Regions from separate parts of the Homo sapiens genome. Here region 1 is linked to region 2. Evidence: fine-mapped expression QTL. A gene starts in region 2. The other region holds a variant in brackets. All regions are shown on one strand. Distances are between the middles of the regions. Region 1 has its middle 24 kb from the start of CTSB. Region 2 holds the start of CTSB (cathepsin B).

Region 1 (5,482 bases), 24 kb before region 2:
TGCTTGGGAGAAGGAGAGCACAGCAATCGCGGGAACTTGAATTGGAATTCAGAGCTACTGACATAGGGCAGAACTCAGCCAGTGGCCCTGGAGGGAGCATGTAGACCAGTCCTAGCCAGAAGGATAGATTCCAACCCATCCCAGAGGTTGGAACTTGAGTTTTGGCAAGCCTCACCACCATGGGCTAAAGTGCAGTGGGGCTCTAAATAAACTTGAAAGATGTTTAGGCCACAAGGACTGCAAATCCTAGGCAAGTCCTGGTGCTGTGGTGGGCTCAGAGCCAGTGGACATTGAGGGGCACATGAGCTAATAAGACACCACCCAGGGTGCCTAAGGGAGTGCTTGCAGCACCCCTCCCACAATCCCAGGCAGCACAGCTCACAGCTCCAAAACAGACCCCTTCCTGATGCATAGGAGAAGAGAAGGAAAACTAAAGAGGACTTTGTCTTGCAACTTGGATACCAGCTCAGCCACAGTAGGATAGGACACTAGTCACAGTCTTGAGGGCTCCATTCCAGGCCCTATCTCCTGGATGACATTTCTAGACACACCCTGGGCCAGAAGGGAACCCACTGACCTGGAGAGAAGAGCTCAGTCCTGGAAGAATTAATCACTTGCTGACTAAAGAGCCCTTGGACCCTGAATAATCAGCAGCAGTAACCAAGTAGTACAGGCAGTTGGCCTTGAGTGAGACTCTGAGACGTGCTGGCTTCAGGTGTGACCAGAAGCACATTCACAGTTCTGGTGGCTACGAGGAGAGAGTCCTTCTGCTTGAGAAAGAGAGAGGGAAGAGGAAAGAGCACTTTGTGATGAGCTTAGGTGCCAGCTCAGCCGCAGTGAGGAAGAGCACCAAAAGGGCCCTTAAGGCCCTCGATTCCAGGCTTGATCCAGCAGAAGAAAGAATGAGTGAGCTTGAAGATAGACTACTTGAAAATACACAGTCAGAGAAGACAAAAAAAAGAGAGAATAAAAAACAACAAAGCATGCCTATAAGACCTAGAAATTAGCCTCAAAAGGGCAAATCCAAGTAATTGTTCTTAAAGAGAAAATAGAGAGAGATTGGGTAGAAAGTTTATTCAATAAAATAATAACAGAGAACTTCCCAAACCTAGAGAAAGGTATCAATTTTAAAGTACAAGAAGGTTATTGAACACCAATCAGATTTAACCCAAAGAAGACTACCTCAAGGTATTTAATAATCAAACTCCCAAAGATCAAGGATAAAGAAAGGATCCTAAAATCAGCAAGAGAAAAGAAACAAATGACATCCAATGGAGCTCCAATCCATCTGGCAACAGACTTTTCAGTGGAAAGGCCAGGAGAGAATAGTATGACATATTTAAAGTGCTGAGGAAAGAAACTTTTACCTAGAATAGTTTATCTAGCAAAAATATCCTTCCAACATGAAGGAGAAAAACTTCCCTGACAAACAAATGCTGCGGGATTTCATCGACTCTAGACCTGTCCTCCAAGAAATGCTAAGGGCCGGGGTCGTGGCTCATGCCTGTAATTCCAGCACTTTAGGAGACTGAGGCAAGCGGGTCACTTGAGGCTAGGAGTTCAAGATCAGCCCGGTCAACGTGGCGAAACACCATCTCTACTAAAAATATAAAAATTAGTCGAGCGTGTTGGCGTACGTCTGTAATCCTGGGTACTCGGGAGACTGGAACATGAGAATCACTTGAACCCGGAAAATGGAGGTTGCAGTGAGTCAAGATTGTGCCACTGCACTGCATCCTGGGTGACAGAGTGAGACTCCATCTCACACACAAAAAAAAAAAAAAAAAAAAAAGCTAAAGGAAGTTCTTCAATCTGAAAGAAAAGGACATCAATGAATAATAGGAAATCATATGAAGGTGCAAAACTCACTGGTAAGTACACAGAAAAACAGAAAATATTATAACACCATAATTGTCGTGTGTAAACTACTCATGTCTTAAGGAAGAAGACTAAAAGATGAACCAATCAAAAATAATCACTACCATGACTTTTCAACTCATAGACAGTACAATAAGTTATCAATAGAAACAGTGGGCCAGATGTGGTGGCTCATTACTGTAATCCCAGTACTTTGGGAGGGGGAGGCAGGTGGATCACCTGAGGTCAGGTGTTCAAGACCAACCTGGCCAACATGGTGAAACCCTGTCTCTACTAAAAATACAAAAATTAGCCAGGCATGATAATTTAAAAATTAGCACACACCTTAATCCCAGCTACTAGAGAGGCTGAGCCAGGAGAATTGCTTGAACCTGGGGGACAGAGGTTGCAGTGAGCTAAGATAGTGCCACTGCACTCCAGCCTAGGTGACAGAGTGAGAGTCTGTCTCAAAAAAAATAAATAAATAAGTTAATACGTGGGGAGAGCAAGTTAAAGTGTAGAATTTTTATTAGTTTTCTTTTTGCTTGTTTGGTAGTTTGGTTTTTGTTTATGCAATCAATGCTGTCATCAATTTAAAATAATTGTTTACAAGATATTTGCAACCCTTACAGTAACCTCAAACCTAAAAACATACAACAAATACACAAAAATAAAAAGAAAGAAAGTGGCCAGGCGTGGTGGCTCATGCCTGTAATCCCAGCACTTTGGGAGGCCAAGGTGGGTGGATCACCTGAAGTCAGAAGTTTGAGACCAGCCTGGCTAACATGGCAAAACTCCGTCTCTACTAAAAATACAAAAATTAGCCTGGTGCGGTGGCGTGTCCCCTCCTGTGGTCCCAGCTACTTGGGAGGCTGAGGGAGGAGAATCACCTGAACCTGGGAGGCAAAGGTTGCAGTGAGCCAAGGTTGCTCCACTGCACTCCACAGCCTGGGCGACAGAGCAAGAGTTCGTCTCAAAAAAGAAAAAAGAGAGAAAAGCAAACAAAGGCTGGGCGCGGTGGCTCATGCCTGTAATCCCAGCACTTTGGGAGGCCGAGGAGGGCTGATCACGAGGTCAGGAATTTGAGACCAGTATGGCCAACATAGTGAAACCCCATTTCTACTAAAACTACAAAAAAAAAAAAAATTAGCCGAGTGTGGTAGTGTGCGCCTATAACCACAGCTACTCGAGAGGATGAGGCAGGAGAATTGCATGAACCCAGGAGGTGGAGGTTGCAGTGAACTGAGATCTCGCCATTGCACTCCAGTCTAGGCAACAGTGTGAGACTCTGTCTCAAAAGAAAATAAAATACAGAGGAGAGGAGAGGAGGGGAGGGGAGGAGAGGAGAGGGGAGGGGAGGGGATCTTGGAGAGCTATCCAAACTTCTCATTTCATCAGGAAGGAATCTGAGGGTTTAGTAACAAGGGG[C/A]CTCATCCCAGATGACTCAGATTTACTGGTCACTTCCTTTTCTGTTCAGGGAATCTGCCTCAGGCCAATACTAATTGGACCCCAGAGAGTCTTTATTCTACCATCTCAAAAACCTTGTTTAGGATTGTCTTAGCTATTTACTGCTGAGTGACAAAGGAGCATAAATTTGGCACCTAAAACAACACACATCGGCAGGGTGAAGTGGCTTACACTTGTAATCCCAATACTTTGGGAGGCTGAGGTATGAGGATCACTTGAGCCCAGCAGTTTGAGACCAGCCTCAGCAACATAGTGAGATACCATCTCTACCAAAAAATAAAAGTTGTTAAATTAGCTGGTCATGGTGATGTGTGCCTGCCATCCTAGCTACTCAGAAGGCTAAGGCAGGAGGATCACTTGAGCCCAGGAGTTCAAGGATGCAGTGAGCTATGATCATGCCACTGCATTCCAGCCTGGGTGACAAAGCAAGATTCTGGCTCACACACACACACACACACACACACACACACACACACACACACGTTTTCTCACAGTTTCTGTAGGTCAGGAATCTGGACACAGCTCAGCTGGTTCCTCCATTTTATGGTCTCTCACAAGACCACACTCAAGGTGTCAGGCAAGGTTGAGTCTTATCGAAAGGCCCAACTGGGGAGAATCTGCTTCCAAGCTCACTTTTTGGTCGTTGACATGACTCAATTGCTTTTAGGCAGTTGAACAAAGGGCCTTGATTCCTAGGTGTTTTTTCCCAGAAGGCACCCTGTGTTTCTTGCCTTGTGGGCCTCCCCAATCAAGCAACTTGCTTTATGAAAGCTTATAAAGGAGAGAGTCTGCCACCAAGACACAAGTCGTCATCTTATATTTACAGAGGTGACATCCTATCATCTTTGCTCTTCTCTGTTTGTTAAAACCAAATCGAAGGTCCTGCCTGCACACAATTGGGGACATTACACAAGGGTGAGAACACCAGGAGTCAGGGACCACAGGGAGCCATCTCAGAGTTCACTCAACACAAAGATATTAATCTTCATTAAGCTCTTTCTGCCCCAGAAAGCAGCCCAGCTTTTGTGGATGTTGTGAGGCCTGTCTCCCAGAAGGGCATTTATTAACCAAACAGTATACAAGATGGTATTAGTCCATTTTTATGCTGCTGATAAAGACATATCAGAGACTGGGCAATTTACAAAAGAAAGAGGTTTATTGGACTTAAAGTTCCACATGGCTGGAGAGGCCTCACAATCATGGTGGAATGTGAAAGTCACATCTCACATGGGGGCAAACAAGCGAAGAGAGAATTTGTGCAGGGAAACTCCCATTTCTAAAGCCACCAGACTTCATGAGACTCATTCACCATCTCAAGAACAGTGCAGGACAGACCTGCCCCCATTATTCAATCACTGCCCACCAGGTTCCTCCCACGACACATGGGAATTCTTGCAGTTACAATTCAAGATGAGATTTGGGTGGAGACACAGCCAAACCATGTGCAGTGGCACAATCGGCCCACTGCAACCTCTGCCATCCAGGTTCAAGCAATTCTCATGCCTCAGCCTCCTGAGTAGCTGGGATTACAGGCATGTGCCAGCACACCTGGCTGATTTTTGTATTTTTAGTAGAGACAAGGTTTCACCATGTTGGCCAGGCTGGTCTTGAACTCCTGACCTCAAGTGATCTGCCCACCTCAGCCTCCCAACATGCTGATGCCTGGCCCGATTTCTTCTTTTTCAATATAATGTGGAATTATCTGATATCTGGATCCAATTTAGTTGTTTATGGAACTGAAACTTCCATTTATTTTGTGGATTATTTCCAAAAACTGATTGGGACTTTGTGTCCGATTTCATTCGTTTCTGTGTGTCATCAAAAGCTGTATTTGTTATGGAGATTAATAATATGTTCTAATTCCCCAGAACTTAGCCATGTCTAACCCTGATATGGACAAGGTTCCATCACCTTTTATAAGACCTTTACAGTAAGTCTTCAATAAATATTTGTTGAATGAATGAGTAAATGACTGAATGGATGGGTGAATGGACACTTTCGCTGGCTTGGGTTTGGGCAGACAGTAGGAAGTGGGGGCCACTGTTTCACCAAAGGAATCACGCTGGAGAAAATCCCTGCATAGCATTGAGTTGTGCAACTATAAATCTATTCCCATAAATTCCAATCAATCCTGTAAACTTCAGAGCAAAAATGCCAG
Region 2 (5,206 bases):
TGAGCCCACTGTGCCCGGCGGATTTTTGTGAGGACGTATGTTTTCACCTCTTTCAGGTGTTAACTTAGGCCTCTTTTACGGATGTTCAACAAGCAAACAGCTTTTACACACGTGAGTCAAGGCCTCTCTGTAAGTTCTGAGAGCTGTTCCCCAGGCCCTGAACCCTGACCCCCAAATCTAGCAGGTTAAGCCAAAATTCTCCTCAACTTCAAGGCCTACTTCATTCATTATGCATCCACTCAACTCACATTTCTCTATCCTCTGCTATGGGCCAGACACCCTGCAATGAGCTGGGATGAAGCAGGGGAACACCGCAGGTAAAAATGCTTGCCTGGGTGGGGCTTAAGATCCAGTGAGGGCAGGAAGGAACATATACAAGTAAATATGCTGTATGTTCCTTTCTCCATGAAGCTTTCCTGGATGTTCCAGGAAGGGACGAATTCTACTCTGGTAGTAATATATTTCTTTTCTTGTCTTTTGAGGAGTCTTGCCCATGTTGGAGTGCAATGGCGTGATCTCGGCTCACTACAACCTCTGACTCCCTGGTTCAAGGGATCCTCCTGCCTCAGCGCTCGAGTAGCTGGGATTACAGGCCCGCAATGCCACACCCAGCTAATTTTTGTATTTTTAGTAGAGACGGGGTTTCACCATGTTGGCCAGGCTGGTCTTGAACTTCCAACGTCGTGATCCGCCTGCCTTGGCCTCCCAAAGTGCTGGGATTACAGGCGTGAGCCACTGCGCCTGGCCTATTTCTTTTTTTCTTTTCTTTTCTTTTGAGATGGAATCTTGCCCGGGTTGGAGTGCAATGGCGTGATTTTGGCTCACCGCAACCTCCACCTCCCGGGCTCAAGCGATTCTCCTGCCTCAGCCTCTCAAGTAGCTGGGATTACAGGCGCGTGAACCACCACGCCCAGCTAATTTTTGTATTTTTAGTAGAGACTGGGTTTCACCATTTGGGCCAGGCTGGTCTGGAACTCCCGACCTCAGGTGATCTGCCTGCCTCAGCCTCCCAAAGTGCTAGGATTACAGTGGTGAACCACCGCGCCTAGCCTGTTTCTTTTGTTTCAAAAGTGATTTTTACCTCTCAAAAGTGATTTCTATAATGACACTGATGGAAAATTCCATCAAATAGCCATAACGCATGTCAAGCACTCTGCTCTGCATACCTTCTGTCACACTCTAAGGATGAGAGAGGGGAGAGTTATCCTGGTTCTGGCTGTGTCCTCCCCATTTTGGCCATCTTATGAGCTCCTTATAGAGGTCTGAAATGATTTGGAGTCCAGAGTCCATGGCTGTCAGGATATGACTAGGGTGAGCAGGCAGTTGGGACCACCTTGACCTCCAGCCTCCTGGTCCTCAGTTCCTCGGGTATCCCACTCTGCTGGGGGCTTAGTGACCATGTTTGGGCTCCAGAGATTATTTTTTCCTTCCACTCCTATCCTTAGTTTGTTACTAACCAGGCGGGAGTACAGGCATGTCTCTGAAGACAGGCTCAGGGCTGTGTGACAGCTGACGACCAGGCTGCAGGGAACCAGGTCCCATGCAGTCCTACTGCCTTTTTTTTTTTTTTTTTTTTTTTTTTTGAGGCGGAGTCTCGCTTTTCGCCCAGGCTGGAGTGCAGTGGCACGATCTCAGCTCACGGGTTCACGCCATTCTCCTGCCTCCGCCTCCCGAGTAGCTGGGACTACAGGCGCCCGCCACCACGCCCGGCTAATTTTTTGTATTTTTACTAGAGACGGGGTTTCACCGTGTTAGCCAGGATAATCTTGATCTCCTGACCTCGTGATCCGCCCGCCTCGGCCTCCCAAAGTGCTGGGATTACAGGCGTGAGCCACTGCACCCGGCTACTGCCTTCTTACTGTCGCCACAGCCTGGATAAAATACGATTCTTCTGAGCCTTTTTTTTTTTTTTAATACAGAGTTTCACTCTTGTTGCCTAGGCTGGAGTGCAATAGTGCGATCTCTGGTCACCGCAACCTCCGCCTCCCGGGTTCAAGCGATTCTCCTGCTTCAGTCTCCCGAGTAGCTGGGATTACTGACACGCGCCACCACGCCCGGCTAGTTTTGTATTTTTAGTAGAGACGGGGTTTCTCCATGTTGGTCAGGATGGTCTCGAACTCCCGACCTCAGGTGACTCACCGGCCTCGGCCTCCCAAAATGCTGGGATTACAGGCGTGAGCCACCGAACCCAGCCCCTCTGAGCCTCTTGAATACAACTGGGGTCATGCCTGCTTTGCAGGTTTGTCTTAAGGATTAAAGCTGTTTGGGGAGTGTCTGGAGGAGGGTGAGTCTTGAGCCAACCCCTGCATCTCCCTTCCAGGGCCTCCCGGTAATAAACCCCAAGTAAATGTGCACTTTGTCCGTCCTCTCGGAGCAGGTCTCCGGGTACTCCTGTGCCAAACCGATTTCCGCCCCCAAGGTCCTTCTCCTCTTAGAAATCCTGACGCAGCTCCTAGGTTCCTTCGCAGTGACAGCCACTCTTTTCTATTTGTACGTAGCTGTAGTGTTTTGTGGGTACGTTCTCTGAACAACAAAGTGGCCCTTCTAAAGGCTGTTCTGTGGGGTCCACAGCCTCGCCACCCCCAGCCTCTGCAGCGGCTTCTGAATGAATGAAATAAGCGACGGCGCCCTCTCCACCACCCCACCCCCGCCAACTCGGCAGGCAGGGATCCCAGGCGCGGGTTCTGGCGGAGGCGGTCCCGCGAGGCGGGGGGACTTTTCTAGGCGGGGTGGGGGCCTTGGGACCACCTTTAGGGGCTTTTTCCCCATCCCCTGGCCCCAATTCGCAGCGTTTCGCCACCCAGGGCCCGCAGGGCTCCAAGCCCTTCTTCCCCAGCCCGCGCGCTCAGGCCCCCGCCCGCCCCCGGCGGTGGCCCCGGACCCCGAGCGGAAGGGGGCGGGGGGTGTGCGGGGCCGGGAAGCGGGGAGCGCGGGCGGCGGAAGGTGGCGGGAGGGGGTGGGGGCTGGGAAGCACCGTGCGCGGGCGGCGGGAGGGCCCGGGCGGGGCTGCGCGGTGGTCACGTGGGGCGGGGCCGGGAGGGTACTTAGGGCCGGGGCTGGCCCAGGCTACGGCGGCTGCAGGGCTCCGGCAACCGCTCCGGCAACGCCAACCGCTCCGCTGCGCGCAGGCTGGGCTGCAGGCTCTCGGCTGCAGCGCTGGGTGAGTGCTGGGGACCCGGGGCCACCGCAGCGTAAGTGACCTTGGCGGGGACGGTGCTACCCGGCCGCCGAGACGGGTTCCTCTGCGCCCTCAGTCGGGCCCAGGCGCGGCCCCGCGGCGTCCCTGGGGGCCGGCGGGGAGCCGGGACCCTCGGGACTGTCCCTGACGGGCGGGCTGGGGTGGGAGTCCGCGCGCTCCGAAGCGTCGGCGAGAAAAGCAGAAAACAGCTCCGCCCGCCAGCCCTCTGCCCTCCGCTCCCCTCCCCGGGCTGTGCGCCGGACCCCGGCCCTCGGAGCGGGGACGCGGCCAGGACCGCCGAGGGAGGCGCCTGCGAGGAAGAGCTCGGCCGGGTCCGGAGACTGCTGCCTGGGACCGCGCTCCCAGCGCCTGGGCCTCGGTGTCTCCGGGCCAAACTGCCGACATAATCGCATCTGCCGGCATCTATTTTCGGTTTATTTCCCCCTCATTGCGAAGGATTTGCCTGGCCAACTTTCTGCGCAAGATCCCACGCAATTCCTGGGACCCCAGAAGACAGGTCCTGTTGAAGAACAGGAATCTGGCACTGGGTGGGCTGGGGAGGAAGCCGCACGGTGTTAAATCCATAAACAGGAAGAGAAACCAGACAGCGAAACCAAGAGGCGAATGGGCGATTGGATGCCGGTGGGGAGAAGGCCGGGGGCGCACCCTGCTCCTGGACTCCAGTAAAGGGAGGCCGGGCAGAGTCCCTGGGGCGCCACCTCCCCCTCGGTTAGTAGCCCTGGAGGCCGGGGGGAGTTGGCCTCTGGGGAGCAGTGGGTGCTGGGTGTGGGGCGTTGCAGGCAGGCTGGGGTGGGCGACCCAGGTGGAAGTGAATTGCACTTGGCTTCCTGGTGGGCCTCTGTCACCCCCTTCCCAGGCGCTGAGAAAGCCAGCAGGCTGGCAAAGAAAAGGACCCTAGCGCAGGCCCCACACTCCTCCTCCTAACGGACGAGAGACCCCCCAAACCCACTGGAGAAGTGACGCTGTGGGGTTCAAATGCAGACCTGGCACCTTTTTGTAGCCTGGAAAAACATTCCCACTGCCTGCTGCCGGAGGAGAGGATAGCTGAGATGCACTCTCTTTGAATCCAAACGTTCAGGAACGTAAGGCGAAGAGGCCTAAGAGGGCGTTGGCTGGCTCTGTCTCTCAGGCTGGAGCACAGTGGCGCGATCTCGGCTCACTACAACTTCCGCCTCCCAAATTCAAGCTATTCTCCTGCCTCAGCCTCCCGAGTAGCTGGGATTACAGGTGCCCGCCACCACGCCCAGCTAATTTTTGTATTTTTAGTAGAGATGGGGTTTCACCATGTTGACCAGGCAGATCTTGACCTCCTGACCTCAGGTGATCCGCCTGTCTCGGCCTCCCGGTGAGTCACGGTGCCTGGCCAAGAACTGTTTCTTGTTGGCTCTGGTGCTGGTGACTTAGAACCCGCCAGCTCCTGGAGAAAGGGGCTGGGCCGCCCACCCTGTGTAGCTTTCCCAAAGACAGAGTCAAACGTCTCCTGGAGAACAGAGGCTTCCCTTCGTCTTTGGTCATTTGTCCTCTAGCTGGGGGTACCCCCTGGTGGAAAGGCACAGGTCCCTTGCTCCCCAGGTGGCAACGCAGGCCAGACACGGCCCTGGCACAGCTCTCCTGGGTGTTGGCTCAGGACAGCCCTGTTTCCAACTGGTTAGGCGGTGAGGGGTGGTGGCCCTTTGGTTCCAGGTTGAAACTGCCCATGTGGTGCTGATTTAGCAGACTGGGGAGGCTCTTTTTGTAGGCAGGTTCTTTTCTTTCCCCAGCTGCTGGACCTGGGAGTTGGAAGAGAAGTTGCACCCATTTTAGGGGTAACAGATATTTTCTGTTGCTCTTGGTTGGATTGGGAAGTGAATTGAAGGGAGGTCACGTTTCAGGGGTGCCTTGGGATGTCTGTCAGTGATTTTCTTTTCTTTCTTAATTTCTTTTTCTTTCTTTTTTTTTTTTTTTTGAGACACACTCCCTCTATCGCTCAGGCTGGAGTGCAGTGGTGCGATCTCGGTTCACTGCCAC

What was found.
Region 1: its variant is fine-mapped to the expression of CTSB in whole blood (TOPMed, PIP above 0.99).

What each region holds. Positions count from the first base shown.
Region 1 is chr8:11,889,566-11,895,047 of GRCh38, reverse strand. No RefSeq gene overlaps it. Among named protein-coding and RNA genes, the nearest start is that of CTSB, 24 kb to the right of the region's middle. RefSeq lists a silencer at 3,740-3,923. The variant C/A (reference allele first, on the strand shown) is at 3,286.
Region 2 is chr8:11,865,955-11,871,160 of GRCh38, reverse strand. CTSB (cathepsin B) reads left to right here and starts at 3,074. Exons shown (of 10, transcript NM_001908.5): 1 at 3,074-3,160. RefSeq lists silencers at 2,921-3,040, 3,181-3,510 and an enhancer at 3,601-3,810.